Linked DNA regions of Homo sapiens: region 1 is linked to region 2. A link means that fine-mapping ties the variant in region 2 to the expression of a gene that starts in the linked region. Tissue or cell type: whole blood. Region 2 holds a variant in brackets; the other region holds the start of a gene. All regions are shown on one strand. Distances are from middle to middle.

The links. PIP is the estimated chance that this variant, and not a neighbour inherited with it, causes the effect.
Region 1: DNHD1 starts here. The variant in region 2 is fine-mapped to the expression of DNHD1 in whole blood (TOPMed, PIP above 0.99).

Annotation. Positions count from the first base shown.
Region 1 is chr11:6,493,880-6,501,977 of GRCh38, forward strand. It overlaps DNHD1 (dynein heavy chain domain 1), which reads left to right and starts at 3,401. Exons shown (of 43, transcript NM_144666.3): 1 at 3,401-3,452; 2 at 3,706-3,788; 3 at 3,892-5,082. The coding sequence starts at 4,337.
Region 2 is chr11:6,467,423-6,475,524 of GRCh38, forward strand. TRIM3 (tripartite motif containing 3) reads right to left here and starts at 6,519. Exons shown (of 12, transcript NM_033278.4): 1 at 6,369-6,519. RefSeq lists enhancers at 1,697-1,991, 5,180-6,119, 6,120-7,058 and a silencer at 6,416-6,645. The variant T/C (reference allele first, on the strand shown) is at 3,424.

The DNA.
Region 1 (8,098 bases), 26 kb after region 2:
GGAGAAGGCAGAACAACTGAAGGCTACCGTGGTAGCCTCAGAGTACTTATATTTGGATGGTTATGTGAGAGAAAAAAATAAACTATCATGTTTAAGCCATGATATTTTGGGTCTTTTTATTACAGCATTTGTGTGGTAGGTAGAAGTTTTAGATCAGGGGTCCCCAACCCCCGGGCCACAGACTGGTACCAGTCATGGCCTGTTAGGAACCAGGCTACACAGCAGGAGGTGAGTGGTGGGTGAGCAGGTGAAGCTTCATCTGTATTTACAGCCACTCTCCATCGCTCACATTACTACCTGAGCTCTGCCTCTTGTCAGATCATTGGTGGCATTAGATTCTCATAGGAGCATGAACCCTATTGTGAATAGCACATGCTAGGTGGCATGCTCCTTATGAGAATCTAATGTCTGATGATCTGTCACTGTCTCCCATCACCCCCAGATCGGATTGTCTAGTTGCAGGAAAACAAGCTCAGGGCTCCCACTGATTCTACATTATGGTGAGTTGTATAATTATTATATATTACAATGTGATAGTAAAATAAGTAAAGCTCACAATAAATGTAATGCATTTGAATCATCCTGAAACCGTTAACCCCTCCCCTGGTCCGTGGAAAAATTGTCTTCCACTACACTGGTCCATGGTGCCAAAAAGGTTGGGGACCACTGTCTCTGAGATTTCCTGCTCTCTAGTATATATCTCCCTAGTATACGCTGCATATTCCATGGGACTGTGAATGTGACAAATTTTACTTATGTGAGAAGGTTATAATATATGGCATAGTTGACTGTAAGAGCGATTGTCTGGGTGGGCCTGATCTAGTCACATGAGTCACATGAGCCCTTTAAAAGCAGAGTGTTTTCTTTATGGTTGCAGAAGGGGACATCAGAAAAGTGTGAAGCATGAGAAGGGTTAGAGGCACTGTTGTTGGCTTGAAAATGGAGGAACCACATGTCAAGGAAGACAGGTGGCCTCTAGGACCTGAGAGTGGCTCCTGGCTAATGGCCATGAAGAAAACAGGGACATCAGTCTTAGAACTGCAAGAAACTGAATCTTGCCAACAACAATAATAGCTTGGAAGTGGATCCCCCCACACCCCCCACCCCCTAGAGCCACCAGATGAGTAGCCCCGTCAACATGTTGACTTCAGGCTTATGATACCCTGAGCAAAGAATCCAGTAAAGTCATGCTGGACATCTGATCTACAGAACTGTGAGGTACTACATAGGTGTTGTTTTTAAGCTGCTTAGTTTGTAATAACTTGTTATGCAGCTCCAGAAAACTTGCGCGTTAGTGGGGGTTCTCCAGAGAAACAGAACTGATAGGCTGAGAAGTCCCACAATCTGCTGTCTACAAACTAGAGAACCAGGAAATCTGGTGGTGGAATTCAATCCAAGTTTGAAGGCCTGAGAACCAGGAGCACTGATGTCCATGGACAGAAGATGAATGTCTCAGCTAAAACAGCAAGTCCACCAGCTGCCTGTTTAAATTCTGTTTAGGCAACAGATTGTACAATGCCCATCCACATTGGTGAGGATGATCTTTACTTAGTCTACCTATTCAAATACTAATCTCTTCCAGGAATACCCTCAAAGACACACCCAGAAATAATGCTTTACCAGCTATCTGAGCATCCCTTAGCTCCGTCAAATTGACAAATAAAATTAACCATCACAGCCGGGCATAATAGCTCGCGCCTGTAATCCCAGCACTTTAGGGGTGAGGTGGGAGGATTGCTAGAGGCCAGAGGCTCGAGACCAGCCTGGGCAACATAGTGAGACCCTGTCTCTACAAAAAAATAAATAAATAACAGTCATAACTTGTGTATCTCCTAACTGATACACAAGCAGACAGCACAGCTTGTATGTAGTCTGTGAGGTGGGGGTATGGCTGGTGTGATTCAGGCACAGCAGTAGTAGAGTGTGAATGTGAAGAGAGAAGCCTACAGAGGTAGCAGGCAGTTATCAGCAATTTGTAGGCCATGATAGGACTTTGGCCTTCAGCTGAAGGAATTAGATGAGGGGGCATTAGTGAGCTATGAGCAGAGGAGTTATAGGATCTGCCTATATTTGAAAAGGATCACTGGCTGCTCTAAAAAGAATGGATTGTAGGGGCAATGGTGAGAAGCATGAGAAGGATCTGAGGCAAGGAGAACAGTTCAAAGGCTGTGGAAAAACCCAGGTGAGAAATGATAGCAGCTTAGACCAAGGTTGTAGTACTTAAGATGGTGGGAAATAGTTGGATTCTGGATATATTCTGAAGGCACAACCAGCAGAATTTCCTGAAGGATTACTTATGGAGGGAGGGGGAGAGAGAGAAAGAGAAAGGGAAAAAGAAGAGGGAAAGAGAAAGAAGGGGTTTGGAAGAGGTCTCAAAGCTGACTCCAAGGTTTTGGTGTGAGAAACCAGAAAGAATGGATTTGCCATTGACTGAGGTGGGAAAGACAGTGAAAGGAGCAGCATTTCTTTGGTGGGGAAAGGGTGGTTAGGAGCCTGCTTTTGGACATTTTAAGTTTGAGATACCTATAAGCTCTCCAGGTGGAGACATTAAGTAGGCAGTTGGATATACTAATCTGATTTCAGAGGAGAGGTGGGCTGAATTTCTTTTTTTATTTTAATCATCAACTTTTTTTTTTTTTTTTTTTTTTTTGAGATAGAGTCTCCCTCTGTCGCCCAGGCTGGAGTGCAGTGGCGCGATCTCTGCTCACTGCAAGCTCCGCCTCCTGGGTTCACGCCATTCTCCTGCCTCAGCCTCCCCAGTAGCTGGGACTACAGGCGCCCACCGCCACGCTCGGCTAATTTTTTTGTATTTTTAGTAGAGACAGGGTTTCACCGTGTTAGCCAGGATGGTCTCGATCTCCTGACCTCGTGATCCACCCGCCTCGGCCTCTCAAAATGCTGGGATTACAGGCATGAGCCACCGCGCCCGGCCTCATTCAACTTAATTTTTAAAAATTAGCCCCTCCATAAGCCCTTCCCCAAAAAATCCCCCTCCCCCCGTGCCAAATAGATGTTGAGCTCCTTGAGATCAAGGATTTTGTTTTATTCGGGCTTCTTTTGGGGAGGTGGGATAGGGTAGATGGATACGTTGGGGGTGGGGATGGGGGAGTACCAAAGACATACCAAAGACCTGGCACTAGTTTAGATACTCAGCGAATGGATATAAACACCTGCTTACGACACCCTCTGGATTGCTAGTCTCCCGAGTCAACCGTACTGCACGTGCAGTTCAGACCCCGCCTGGTCCTCTACAGGTCCCTGTCCCAGGCAAGCCTTAGCCCACAGGTTGAACCTAGTTCTGCCCCTCCAGGCTTGGGCTCTGCCCTCTCGGCCCCGCCCATATCGGACCCTGGCCCCTCCTCTTTCTGGCTCCCCCGGATGCTCCTGGCAAAGACTCGGTCCTTCTGGAATCTTGTAACGGTTCTAACAGCTGGGTGCGGGTGGAGCTGCGGGTGAGTCCTCGGCTCCGGATCCATTTCTCTTTGTTCCCTAGGACCCCCTCCCACAGAGTCCGCCTCCTCTTCCCCGCTCTCCCAGCCCCCTCCTTTGCCTGTTAACGTCTTCCCCTACCTGCATCCTGACCATCATTTGCTGTGCCTGCTCCTCGGCTTTCTGTCTTCACGACCTCCTTAGGCTGTGGGCGAAGACGTCATGGGACTGGGGCTCTGCTGCCTTCGAGTGACGACCTGTTAACCCGTTTTTCAGGCGATCGCCAGCTCGAGTGCAGATTCCTTGCTGTGACCGAGGTTCAGAGTGAGCTCTGTCGGTGTGTCAGTTTGCCTCTTCAGGTGATTGCACGTCTGTGTGCGAGTCTCTCCGTGTATGGGTGGCTATGATTAGGGTGAGCCTCAGACTGGAACTCAAGTCTAAGTTCATTCACTGCTCCAGCAGGCACTCTTCAATGAAACCTCATCAGCAGATCGGGCTCTCTTCCCTTGCCTTGCCTCCTAACCCCCCTAGGCCAGGTGAGGGGGACAGGGTACTGGGAGGTAAGAAGGAACTCTTCTGCAAGGAGGGCTCTCACGTCTGTCTTAGGCCTGCTCCTTACCAGAGTCTTTGGGGAAGCAGTAGGGAGGGCCTGAGGGTCTCAGGAAAGGCTCTCTGCTGGTCTGGCTCTGCTCTGTAGCTCCATCTATTTCCCTGTCCCAGGTCCTTTCTTCCTCCTAACCCCATTGACTCTGACCATCCCCTGCCCAGAGCCTGAGGTCCCTTCTCTGGCCCCTCTGCTGGGCTGGCCCATGCAGGTGAGGCCCCGCATCTGGCATCCTGGAACTGGCAGTTGGAGCCTGAGCTATGGGCAAGGTCACTTCGACAGCAGTTGAATGCCCAGCTCCTCATGGTCCCGGAGGAGAGGAGGGTAGGTTTGTCTTCTGATGAGACATCATCTGATTCCCTTAAGTCTTGGCACTCCATATGTGTCTTGGACAGCAAAGAACAGCCCTTGGCCTGCCAGCAGAAACAGAGGCAGTTCGTGAAGCCAGTGACTGAGTCAGAGCAGCCCACAGTGCTGGAACTCCTGCTAGCTGAGCTCCGAACTCTGTTCTCAGCTGTGTTGCAGGACAGTAGCCCTGCAGCTTGGCGCTATCTTCATGCAGTACTGGGTCTACTGCCTCCATATCGTGAGTTGCTAGTTGGCCACCTTGATTTGCTGCCCTTCCTGGAGCAGCTGTACTGCTGGGCACCCTGGGTCCAAACCCACCTCCATCTGGACCTGCTAGGTGCCATTGTCCAGGCCTTTCCTCCAGACAGCTCTTTGTTAGACAGTGCTTCCCATGCTGACTGCTGTCCCCAGAAGCGGAGGCTCCATCACAGGCCCCCATGCCCAGCTTGCCCTTTTGTGCAGGCCCAGTGGAGCAGGCAGCAAGTAAAGGAGGAGCTGGCCACCTGGCTGCGACCATTGACACTGCCTGAGCTACAGCGCTGCCTGGGCATTGTTGGTGCTCAGGTGGCCCTAGAAGAGGCTGTGTGGCTGGATGGACTTAGTCTCCTTCCCTTGGCACTGGCAGCGGACATCCCTGTACGGTATGAAAGCAGTGACACTGACAATGCAGAGGTGGAGCCTGTTGGAAGAAAAGAGACCAGGTAAGTGAGGGACTCAGTCTAGGGCTTGAGCAGAGGAGAAAAAGTTGCTGTTTTATGGGTGCCTCTGGGGTCACTTGGAAGTTTAGATCCAGCTCTCTGTTTATCACAGGGATTAGCCCAACTCCACACAAAGCTAGTGTGAGGCTACTTTCCTCTTCCTTTTTCTCTGCAAAATAAACCCAGTGGTGTTAGTCTTAATCCCCATAGAGAAATACAGAAATTAATGAAAATCAGAAGTCAGCTATGAGGCAGCCAAAGCTTTAGAATAACAGCTTGACTTTTCAGTTTCCAGGTTTTTTTCTTAGATGATGTCAGAAGTCTCCTTAATTATTTTTCTATAATTCATTCATAATCACTGAACATTGCCTGGGCCTACTGTGAGTTGATTCCTGGATGTTGGGTCTTTCCCTCAAGGTACCCCTGGGGAATGTGTGTCCGAGTGTCCTTCCCACATGTCTATGTGACTTAAACCGGCTCCAAGGCAGAGTGGAGTTGGCAGCACTACTGGATAGAATTTCATTTTGACCCTTCCAGAGTCTTCTTCTTGCCCTGCCAGTGTGGGCACTCTGGCCCCTTGAGTGATATATTTTTCTTTTGTTTCTTTCTTTCTTTCTTTCCTTTTTTGAGATAGAGTCTCACTCTGTCGCCCAGGCTGGAGTGCAACGGCATGGTCTCGGTTCACCGCAACCTCCGCCTCCCGGGTTCAAGTGATTCTCCTGCCTCAGCCTCCTGAGTAGCTGGGACTACAGGCACGTGCCACCATACTCAGCTAATTTTTATATTTTTAGTAGAGACGGAGTTTCACTATGTTGGCCAGGCTGGTCTCGAATTCCTGACCTCATGATCCGCCCACCTCTGCCTCCCAAAGTGCTGGGATTACAGGCGTGAGTCACTGCGCCCGGCCCTATTGTTTTCTTTTTTAAAATATCTGGCTATCAGAGCTCTCTACAGGATTTCAGAATGCTTACAGAGACCTTCTCTTCTCAGCGTTCTCTAACTTTCGATTTTTTTTTTTTTTTCTGAAACAGAGTCTCACTCTGTCGCCCAGGCTAGAGTGCAGTGGCCTGACCTTGGCTCACTGCAACCTCTGCCTCACAGGTTCAAGCGATTCTTTTGCCTCAGCCTCCCGAGTAGCTGGGATTACAGGCTCATGCCACCACGCTCAGCTGATTTTTGTATTTTCAGTAGAGACAGTGTTTCGCCATGTTGACCAGGCTAGGTTTCCAACTCCTGGTCTCAAGTGATCTGCTCACCTCGGCCTCCCAAAATGCTGGGATTACAGGCATAAGCCACCGTGCCCAAGAGAGTTTTTTAACTTTAGTTTTGGAATTCTCCTTGTCCTCTGGCCTCATTTTCTAGACAATGCTTTGCAGCTGTCTGTGGCACATTTACTGTTCGGGAAGAAGGCTAGTTTTACCTTTAATTAAGGTTGGCTTCCTCAGTTTTTGCTGTAAGTTTATGGCTGGGTCAAGTCTTTCCATTAAAGCCTAATGTTAGATAGATAGGCAGGCTCCTGGGGCCCTAATGGGAGGTGGCCAATGCCATAAATTTATGGTGGCCCTATTGGAATCTTTTCCTTTTTCAAAGAGCTGCCCTGTGCCTTGAGTACAAGTTTCCTTTCCTGGGAGAACTTGACTGAATTGGCATGGGCTGAGATGTTGGGAAGGGATCAAGTTCTTTGCCCTCCCTTTGAACCTGGCAGTAAACCTCTGAGGTCTAGCTAATATGGCTTAATTTGCATTACGTTCTCCCGGAGTGGTTTGCCAGGCATTCATTCATTCAATAAGTGTTGGATAGCTACATTTATTAGGATCTGCAAGATGCTAGGGATACAGAAGTGAATGAGACAGACTCAATCCCTTCACTTGAGGTATTACAGTTTAGTTAGGGAGATATAGTTAAGTTGATAACAAGTAAAATATAATTACAAATTGTAATAAGTGCTATAAAACAAAAGAATACTGTCTTTTGCCTGGCTGCTTCTCTGCAGGTGGGAGAGAGAGAGAGAGGGAGTGTAGTTAGGGGGAAAGCATGTGGGGGGAGTGTTCAAGTCTAGATTAGATTAACAAAAACATCAAACAGAGTTTCAAGGAGGAGGGAGCAGTCAGTAGTATTACATGTTAAATGAGACAAGTAAGAAGAATGAAAATGTTCATTGGATGTAGTAACAAGGAAGAGGTTAAGTTTTGTGGGGAGGAAGCTAGATTGTGGTGCATTGAGGAGTGAATGGAAGATGAAGTGGAAATCGCATTTTACGATTTTTTTTGTGAAGCTTAGCTTGAAGGGAAAAGACAAATAGCAGGGCAGCAGCTTGAAAGAATTTTGGTGTCTGGGTAGGGATTTTTTTTTTTTTTTTGATAGAGAGATGTTTATATCCCTTAACACAGTGCTTGAGAAGTAGGTGCTCAATAAATATTCGTAGACTAAATGAATAAATAGACTAAGGTAAGAAGAAGAGTAGATTAAAAATATATCATAGAGAATAAGGGGTCCAGAGCACTGATGGAGGAATTAATCTTACAGAGAAGAAAGGATACCTCTTCCTCTGAAATCGGGGGACAGATAAGTGTGTGGGGGAAGGCAACTGAAGTTGAGGGAATTGGCTAATGGCTGAAAACTTCAGCTTTCTCCAGGCAGAGAAGGAGACAGAGAATGGGATGGAACTGGGAGCTCAGCAGGGCTTGCATGGGGTTAGGGATAGCAGTTTGAGAGGCCTGAAAGAGGTAGCTGTCTGAGGACTTGTGTGAAGACATCAGGCAGAATGAGCCCACAGCTGATTGGACACCAGGAACCCGTAGAGGAGCAAATGTCCTTGGTTTTGCGATCTTCTGAATATACTATATAATATAGGACTTTGCTGAGAAAATGAACCTATAAGAGCAATTATACCATTTAAGATGTCCTGATCCAACACAACAGTTCATCAAGGACATATGTATAAAGGTTATAAACCATATTGTTGATATGAATTCTAGAATAGGATTGCACTGTTATCCCTGGGGAAACTTGTGTTGAT
Region 2 (8,102 bases):
GGAAGATAGGTAGAGATGAGATCATGAAGGACCTTATAACCGCCATTAAGAATGTGATTTTGGCTGGGTGCAGTGGCTCATACCTGTAATACTAGCACTTTCAGAGGCCAAAGCAGGAAGATCGTTTGAGCCCAGGAATTGGAGATCAGCCTGGGCAACATAATGAGACCAATATCTACAAAAAAATTAAAAATCATCTAGGCATGGTGGCACACACCTGTAGTCCAGGCTACTTGGGAGGCTGAGGTGGGAGGATTGCTTGAGCCCAGGAGGTCGAGGCTGCAGTGAGCCATAATCGTGCCACTGCACTCTAGCCTGGCATGAGACAAAGTTGAGATTCTGTCTCAAAAAAAAAAAGTGATTTTATCCTAAGTTGGAGGGGGGGATGATGTGGTTTATAAATAAGTGAAAATAAATTAGAAAGCTACTCTGGCAAGCTGTGAGAATTGAAGACAAAGAGAAGCCAGAGTGGAATCAGAGAAAACAGTTAGGAAGCTACCAAAGTTCTTTGGGTAAGATAATGTAGGGTATCATCTGAGCTACAAGCAAAAAGCTGGACTGATTTGAGAAATATTCATTGGCCGAGCAAGGTGGCTCACATCTGTAATCCCAGCACTTCGAGAGGCTGAGGAAGGAGGTTCACTTGAGCTCAGGAGTTCGAGATCAGTCTGGGCAACATAATGAGACCCCATCTCTATAAAAATAAAATAAATAATAAAAGAGAAATCCAAAGGACATCAAGATGAACTGGGTGTGAGAGGGATGTCAATTATGACTTAGCTTTCTCATTTTAGCAAGTGATGGGCCATGAATAGAGACAGTGAAAGCTGAGGTGGAGCTGATTTGGGGCATTCTGTTCTATGTATGCTAAGTACAATGTGTCTCTCTGATGTCCAGGTAGAGCTGTCAAGTAAGAAACAGAATACAGGAGCTCAAGAGAAAAGTCTGGACTGGTTATTGATTTGGGATCACTAGCATATAAATGGCACTTTCAGCAATGAGAAGACATGAGCCCACCTAGGGACAGAGGGCAGACAGTGATAAGAAAAGGGCCTGGCACAAGAGAGGGGAGCCAGCAAAGGTGACTCTGAGAAAGAGAACCCAGAGAAATGGTAGGAAAACCAAAAGAATGTGAAACCAAAGAAATCAACAGAACAGTGCAAGAAAAAGAAGGGGTGAAGTAAGAAACGGACTGAAGAGTGCCCACTAGATTTGGCTGTGGTGGGGTGGCAGGGGCAGAAGCCACGTCAGAGTGACTGAAGAGTAAATGGGAGATGAAGTTAACACAGCAGATGTAGACAATACATGGCAGGGATTTGGTCATGAAGGGTGGCAGAACAACAGCTGGATTACTCCAAAATAGGCAATGAATAGGACCAGGTCACCATTGTCTGTGCTGTTGGATGCATTATGAGCCTTTTTCTAAAGACTGTGAATGAATGAATGAATGAATGAATGAATGAATGCAGGAGCGAGTCTAGATTTGGGGAGGGATAGAAGGGCTGAGTTGCTGTGCCTTATGTTTGTGTAAGGGTGGGCCTGGGTAGAGTGTGAAGGGCATGCCTGAAAGTATCCTCTGCTGATGTAGACACTGGCATCCTGATGTTCTCTCTACAGTTGTAATGGGTTCTGGAGTCTGAAGACTTAATACCAGGAAAACATAGCAGGAGGGAGGACAGATTGAAGGTTGGCGGAAGGACCAGGAGGCGGGAGGCAAGCTGAAGCCTCTGTCTGGTGAAGGGAAAGGCTGGGAGGAAGAGTGGGAGTGGTCTGCTGGGTCCTGCTGGGGTAGCTGGATGCCAGGCTCCACCTCTCTCCAAGCCTAGGGGCTCTCCCAGACTGTCACACAGGGGCGGGGATTGGGCTATGTCCAAGGACCAATAGCTCCTCCCCCACTCCTCCCCTTCCTGCTTCAGTTCCCCTCCCAGACTTACTGGGCATGCAGCCGCTGAGGCCATACCCCTGCCTGAATCTGAGATTCTCTTCCTCCCGTGGGGTCCTAGCTCTTCCATCCCACTGTGCTCTAGAGATTTGCCCCCAAGATCCTATAGGTGGTGGTTCAAGTGAACTGTTTATCACAGCAGACACTTATAAGGCCTTGGTCTCAGAGCCAGACTTTACTCTCCTTTCTCATACTGCCTTCTGCTATCCCTGTATTGGTTATTCCCACCATACTTTATGGCTTAGTTCTCAAGGCACCTCACTCCCTCATTCAGCATTCACTTGACACTGCTGCTAGGCCTGGGGACACAAAGACAAATAGTCACAGCTCAGCCTTCATGGATTCCACAATCTAATAAATAGATTACTGCAATGTAAAGTGGTGAAGACCATGATGAGGAAGCACCAATTGCTCCAGGAGTACAAAGGTTACCTAACCTAGATCTGGAGCAGGGGTGGGTCCAGAGGTTGGAGGCCAACCTTTCTCCTAAAGAAAGTAACTTTAGTAACTCCTAAAGAAAGTAACGTTCAAGCTGAGGATGAGTTACAGAGAGTATGGTGCCTTTTGCATCAGGAGGCTGAATCAGACACTGTGATGGGAGGGCTAAGAAACAAGATGGAGAGGTAGGCAAAAGATATATCATGCAATGCCTTGTTGGTCTTATTAAGGAGTTTAGACTTTACGCTTACCTGCTAGGGGATGAAGGATTTATCCAAAAAGCAAAGGAAAACTTTGGTAGTGGTGAGGGCTATTAAGTATAGAGTGACAAAAGTACATTTTTGGCTGCTATGTGGAAAATAGTTTAAAGGGCAAGGACGGAAAATTAAGAAACTGCCTTGATTAGGAGAATAGCAAAGACAGGCCAAGATAAATCAATTTTGCAGGGGGATATCAACTGAACTTGGTGGCTGGGTATTTACATGTGAAGAGTTAGGGGAGAAGAAGGAATTAACAGATGATTCTTTGGAAACTCTCAAAGAAGAGCAGTTTGGATGAGAGGGTGATAAGTTTGGTGTTTATCTTTTAAGGTTTTTTCAGTTTTGTTTTTGTTTTTTAAGAGACAGGGTCTTACTCTGTTGTCCAGGCTGGAATGTGGTGTTATGATCATAGCTCACTGTAGCCTCAAACTCCTGGGCTCAACTAATCCTCCTGCCTTGGCCTGCCAAAGCGTGGGGGTTGCAGGCATGAGCCACAGCACCCAGCTAGAGTTCACTGTTTAATGTGATGAATCTGAGGTGCCTATGGGATGTAATTCAAGTGGAGAGGTCCAGTTGGCAGTTGGAAAGATACGCTGAAGCCTAAGAGAGAGGTCTGGCCTGGAGACATGAATGTGGATGTTGGTGCAGAGATGGTTCCTGAAGCCATGGGCGTGGATGACATTACCCTGAGAGGGTAAAGAGAGAAAGGAGGGTCTATCACCAAGTCCCAAGGAACCTCAATATTTAAGAGATAGGCCCAGGAAGCAGAGTCTGCAAAGAAGA[T/C]TGAGAAGGCACAACCAGAGAAGCAAGAGAATCAGGAAACAGATGTCATGAATGCCAAGGGAGAAGAGAACTTCATGAACAAGGGAGTGAAATGCTGCAGAGGTCCCATTATTTAAGCCCCAAAGAGGCTTTCATTAACCTCAGAGCATGTGGTTTTCAGGGGATGGAGGACAGGAAGCCAGATGCAGGGAGTCAAGCAAGAAGCTGATTGTGAACAAATGAAGACAGCCAGTGCTGACTCCACTAGATCCTGGACATCTGCAAAGGATGTGTTTCAAGGCTTTTCAGTTTCTCCAAATTCTCAAATAGCATTAATTTTCCCCAGGACTTCCTCCTACAATCTCACAGGATTCCCAGTACACATGAGTTACACAGTTGTGAATGGAGGTAACCAAGGCATTGTTGAAAATGGATGCGAGAGGTCAGCTAGGCTCATTTGCTTGCTAAAATAACTCACGTCTACTCACTAGCTTCCAGGTTTATCTGATCATTTGAGACCTCAAAAAAATGACAAATGACTGCAGGTTACAGTCTTTGGGCTTTCTCTGAAACAAATGAAGCCTTGGATGAGGCAAAGTCCTTAAAGCCAATGAATCCTTTAAATAAGATTAGCAGGGAAGGAAAGCAATGAAATTCATGGCCATCTCCCCCAACATTGCCAGACTGAGTAAAGTGAATGAACCATTCAATCAAACTTCTCTGGGCACACTGTGGGCCAGGTCCTTCAGCTGTGAAATAGAGACACAAAGCTGAATCAGACACACTCCCTGTCTTTCACAAGTTTTTAGACTAATGTGAGAAACAGAAATGGAAACACGTAACTACAATGTGATAAGTACCATGATATTGACATGTTCAAATTGCTACAGCAGCAAACTGGAGGAAGTACCTAACTCTGAGGATGGTACAGAATAAAGAAGGCTTCCAGAGGAAGGGGTATTTGAGCTGGGTCTTGAGAGACAAATAGGACATTGATACGTACATTGGGAAAACAGTGAGTAAAGAAACAGAAACATGAGAAACTAAGAAATATGGAACAGATGGACAAGATTGCAAATCTCCAAAAGGCAGAGGTTATACATGATGCTTTTACATCCTAAAAGCATAAAAATAAATATGCTAAAAATAAATAAATCTAAATAAATAAATAAATAAAAGGCACCACCACTCACCCACCCACACAAGCGAGAACCCTGGTAGTCTTCTCAATTACACCTTTTCTTTCACCTTTCAGATACAAGCTATGACTACATCCTCAATTCTGCCTCTGAAATTTGGCTAGGTTTAAAAAGTTAGGAGATCTAGGATCTAGTCCTAATGCTGTAACTAACTCCACTAACACAAGGTGAAACTCTAGGTAAGTTCCAACCCCATTCCCTTATTTGTAAATTGGGAGAAGAGGGATGTTTTCTCAAAATCTGAGATTCCCAAGGTTCCCTCTCAAGCCAAGGGCTTCCACAGATTGTACCATGAGCCCATGATTAAATCCCATCTTGTACTACCTCGATGATTTGACTTCTAGTTTCCACTGTTAGGCTAAATGTGTTAGAGGATGGTCTTAGTTGCCTCCCCTCCACACTCCCCCTGCCCCCTCGCCCCCGTAAATAAATGTTTGCTGAGTTTTAAGTCACCTGTGACACTCTATGAACGCTCTCTATTCTAACCATATGGTTTTTCTGCTTTTCTGAACCTGGGCTATACTATCCCAACGATGGACTCTTTGCTCAAGTTCTCTCGGCAAGAATGCCATTGTCTCCTAAGTGGCTGTGGCAGTACCTGGCACACAGGAAGTACTCAGTATATGTTGGTTACAGGAGAGCTCTGTTTAAATCTCTGCAGTTCCCTTTCATCAGAGAGAGATGCAAAAGTAATGGCAGTAACAAGACAAGTGAATAAAGTCCCAAGAAGAGAGACCTCTGCTTAATATAAGGAAGCTTTTCCACAGCAGAAAGTAGCAAGTGCTCTGTCACTGGAGGCATACAAGCCCAAGGAGGCAGGGCTACTGTCAGGCCTGCAGCTCTGATTCCAATTCTGCAGCAAATCATCCCCTGCTTAGGGGATGAATGGGCACCAGTGAGCTAGACAGACTGGCCAAGGGAGACCTGTGATGTTTTCTGCACCTGCTGTGACCTCCCAGATGTGATCTTCCTGCTAGGGCCAGTCCTGAGTTTCTGTTGTCCACATCAGAGAACCCCCACACCAAGAACAAGCCCAGGGCCTGCCCTCAGTCGAACTGACCTCCCTGGGGTGCAGCCTGCCCCTCCAACCTGCAACCATCTGTCCCTGCAGGTTTGCAGCCCAGGATCTGAAGCCAATTGCAGAAGGGAGGAGGTCAGAACCAGGGAGGGGCCTGGGGTCCTCCAGGCAGGGCTCAGGCTACAGGAGAACCAGAGGGGTCCTTTCCTACAAAAAAACAGCCTCCACATGAGGCTTTCTGTCCACAGAGCAGTGCATGGGGAGGAAAGGGTGTCCTCCATCCTGACTGGTGGGCCTGTGGGTACCAGAGGATGGAAGGGGCGGGGGGTGGGGTAGGGTGGGGGTGGGGGAGCAAGGGGTGGAGGTGTCTGCACCAGGGAGAAAAGAGCCCTTCAGACAAGATGGGCCACAATATTCCAGAGTCCCACTCAGCACGCACCACCACCACCACCCTCGGCCGCAGCGTTCAGCACCCTCCGCCAACACACACAAGCTCCCAAACCCCGCGCTCCCCTAAGGAACCATCACCCATCCACCCGCGCCTCCCCGCCTCAAAACAGGGACCTCACGTGAGCAGCCACAGCCCGAAGAATCCCCCTGCTGCTCTCACGGACATGGACACGCCTCACGTGGGCAGAGAGAGGCACAGCTTTTGAAAATCATCTGTGCCCCCACCCACAGACGCTCCGACCCAGACCCGGGCTGACAGGAATACAAACGCACCCTTGGGGCCCGCCCGTCGCACTCACCGCGTTGGAACAGGATGCGAGGGCAAAGCTCGGACTGCGGCCACTCTGAAGGGCCCGCGGCGCTGCTACTGCTGCCAGCGCCCGTCCGCCCGGCCCTGCCCGCGCCTCCGCCTGTCCCCGCGCCGGCGCCGCCGCCGGACTAGCCGCACAGGCCGGAGGGAGGGGCCGGGGCGGGGCTGCGGACCGGCCGGGGGAGGGGGTGACTCCAGTAGGGAAGACCCACCCACGCCCCGCCCGCCGCCGCGGAGGCCCCGCCCACCCCGCCTGCCCACCCCTACCGCACCCGCACGCCCCCCCGCCAACGCCTCCACCTCCTGCGGACGCTGCCTCCTTGGTGCTGCTAGGGAGCCGGCGGGCCGGCGAGCCGGATCCCGGATCTCGGATCCCGGATCTCCGCCAGCTGCCTCCGGCTCCGGGAAGGGCGGTGTAGTCGGTCTCAGGGATTGAGATGAGACTCCGTCAAGAAAAGGCAGCTGGGGCAGCAGGGATTTCGGACTCTGGGAGCCTGTCTGGGCCGCCTGCCTCCTGGAGGCGCCCTTTCCGGCTTCCTTGGAGTGCTCCTATGGAATATGCTAGTCTATCGGCTGACCAGGAAGACGTAGAAACCGTCTGTACCTCAGCACGATCTCTGGGCGGCAGAAGGGCAGTACCCAGAACTCTGGGAGAAGGAGTTAAGGGGTAGAAAGGTGGGGGATTTGATTAGGCTTTGGGCGCTTCAGGAGCCCCCTCCTGAGGAAATTCTGGTTCAGACCATCCAGCGACTCCCTTCCTCACACCAAAGACACTGGACAATTCTCAGAATCATCGCCTTGTGCAAAAAGCAGCCCCAAGTGGAAAATAATTGTAACAGTTTACAGGGACTGAGTGGTTATTATGTGCCGACACAGAACTAGCCACTTTACATATATTATTTAATAGTCAGTAGGTAGCATCTTTTATTAGCCCAATTTTACAATGGGAAAAAATAGGGATCTTGCTCCCCAGACGTTAGCCCTCATCACTCAGCTAGAAAGTGGCAGAACCTGGAGTTGAGCCCTGTTTTTAGGCCCTACAACCAGCATTTGGAGACTCGGTACCTTTCATGTTGAAAAATCCCCAGTGGCCCATTAAGTGGCAGCTCATATAAGGACCACCTTCCCTGCCCCAAAAATCAAGCTCTAGTCAGATGATTGCAGGCTGATCAAAGCCCAGAAGACTGTCTGGGAGCTGCAGTATCCATGACAAAGGGCAAAGTCATGCCTGTGAGGATCCCTGCACTATGGGAATCTGCTGAGTGGGTCTTCCCCTTCCTCCAGCCTTCCAGAGGTGGGGAAAATCCTGAAAAATTCTGGTTTCCTTGGCCAAAGGGCATACAGGTGATGACACCTAGCCCTGACTAAACCAAAGTGCTGTTAGGGATCTTTCTTGTGACCTCTCCACAAGGTTCAGATTTAGGCTCAACACCTGGGTGCAGCAGGAGCTTTGGGAACCGCCTCAACCTCTTATCCACCTGAGTTCAGCACATAGCACAAGATGCTCCAGTGCTTGTGAAGGAAACCCAGACGGGGATCATGCTTGCAGTTTTGGGCTGGGGCTACTATGCTACCCAAGATGAGGGAACTGGAGTCTAGATGACACTATCTTAAGCCTCAGAGGACTACTTTTCTCAACTCTATACTTCTCCCATGCAGTCAAATTTCTGCTTAAAACACTTCTCAGCTCCTTCTCCAGAGGGCAAAAGTCCTTAACCAGCCT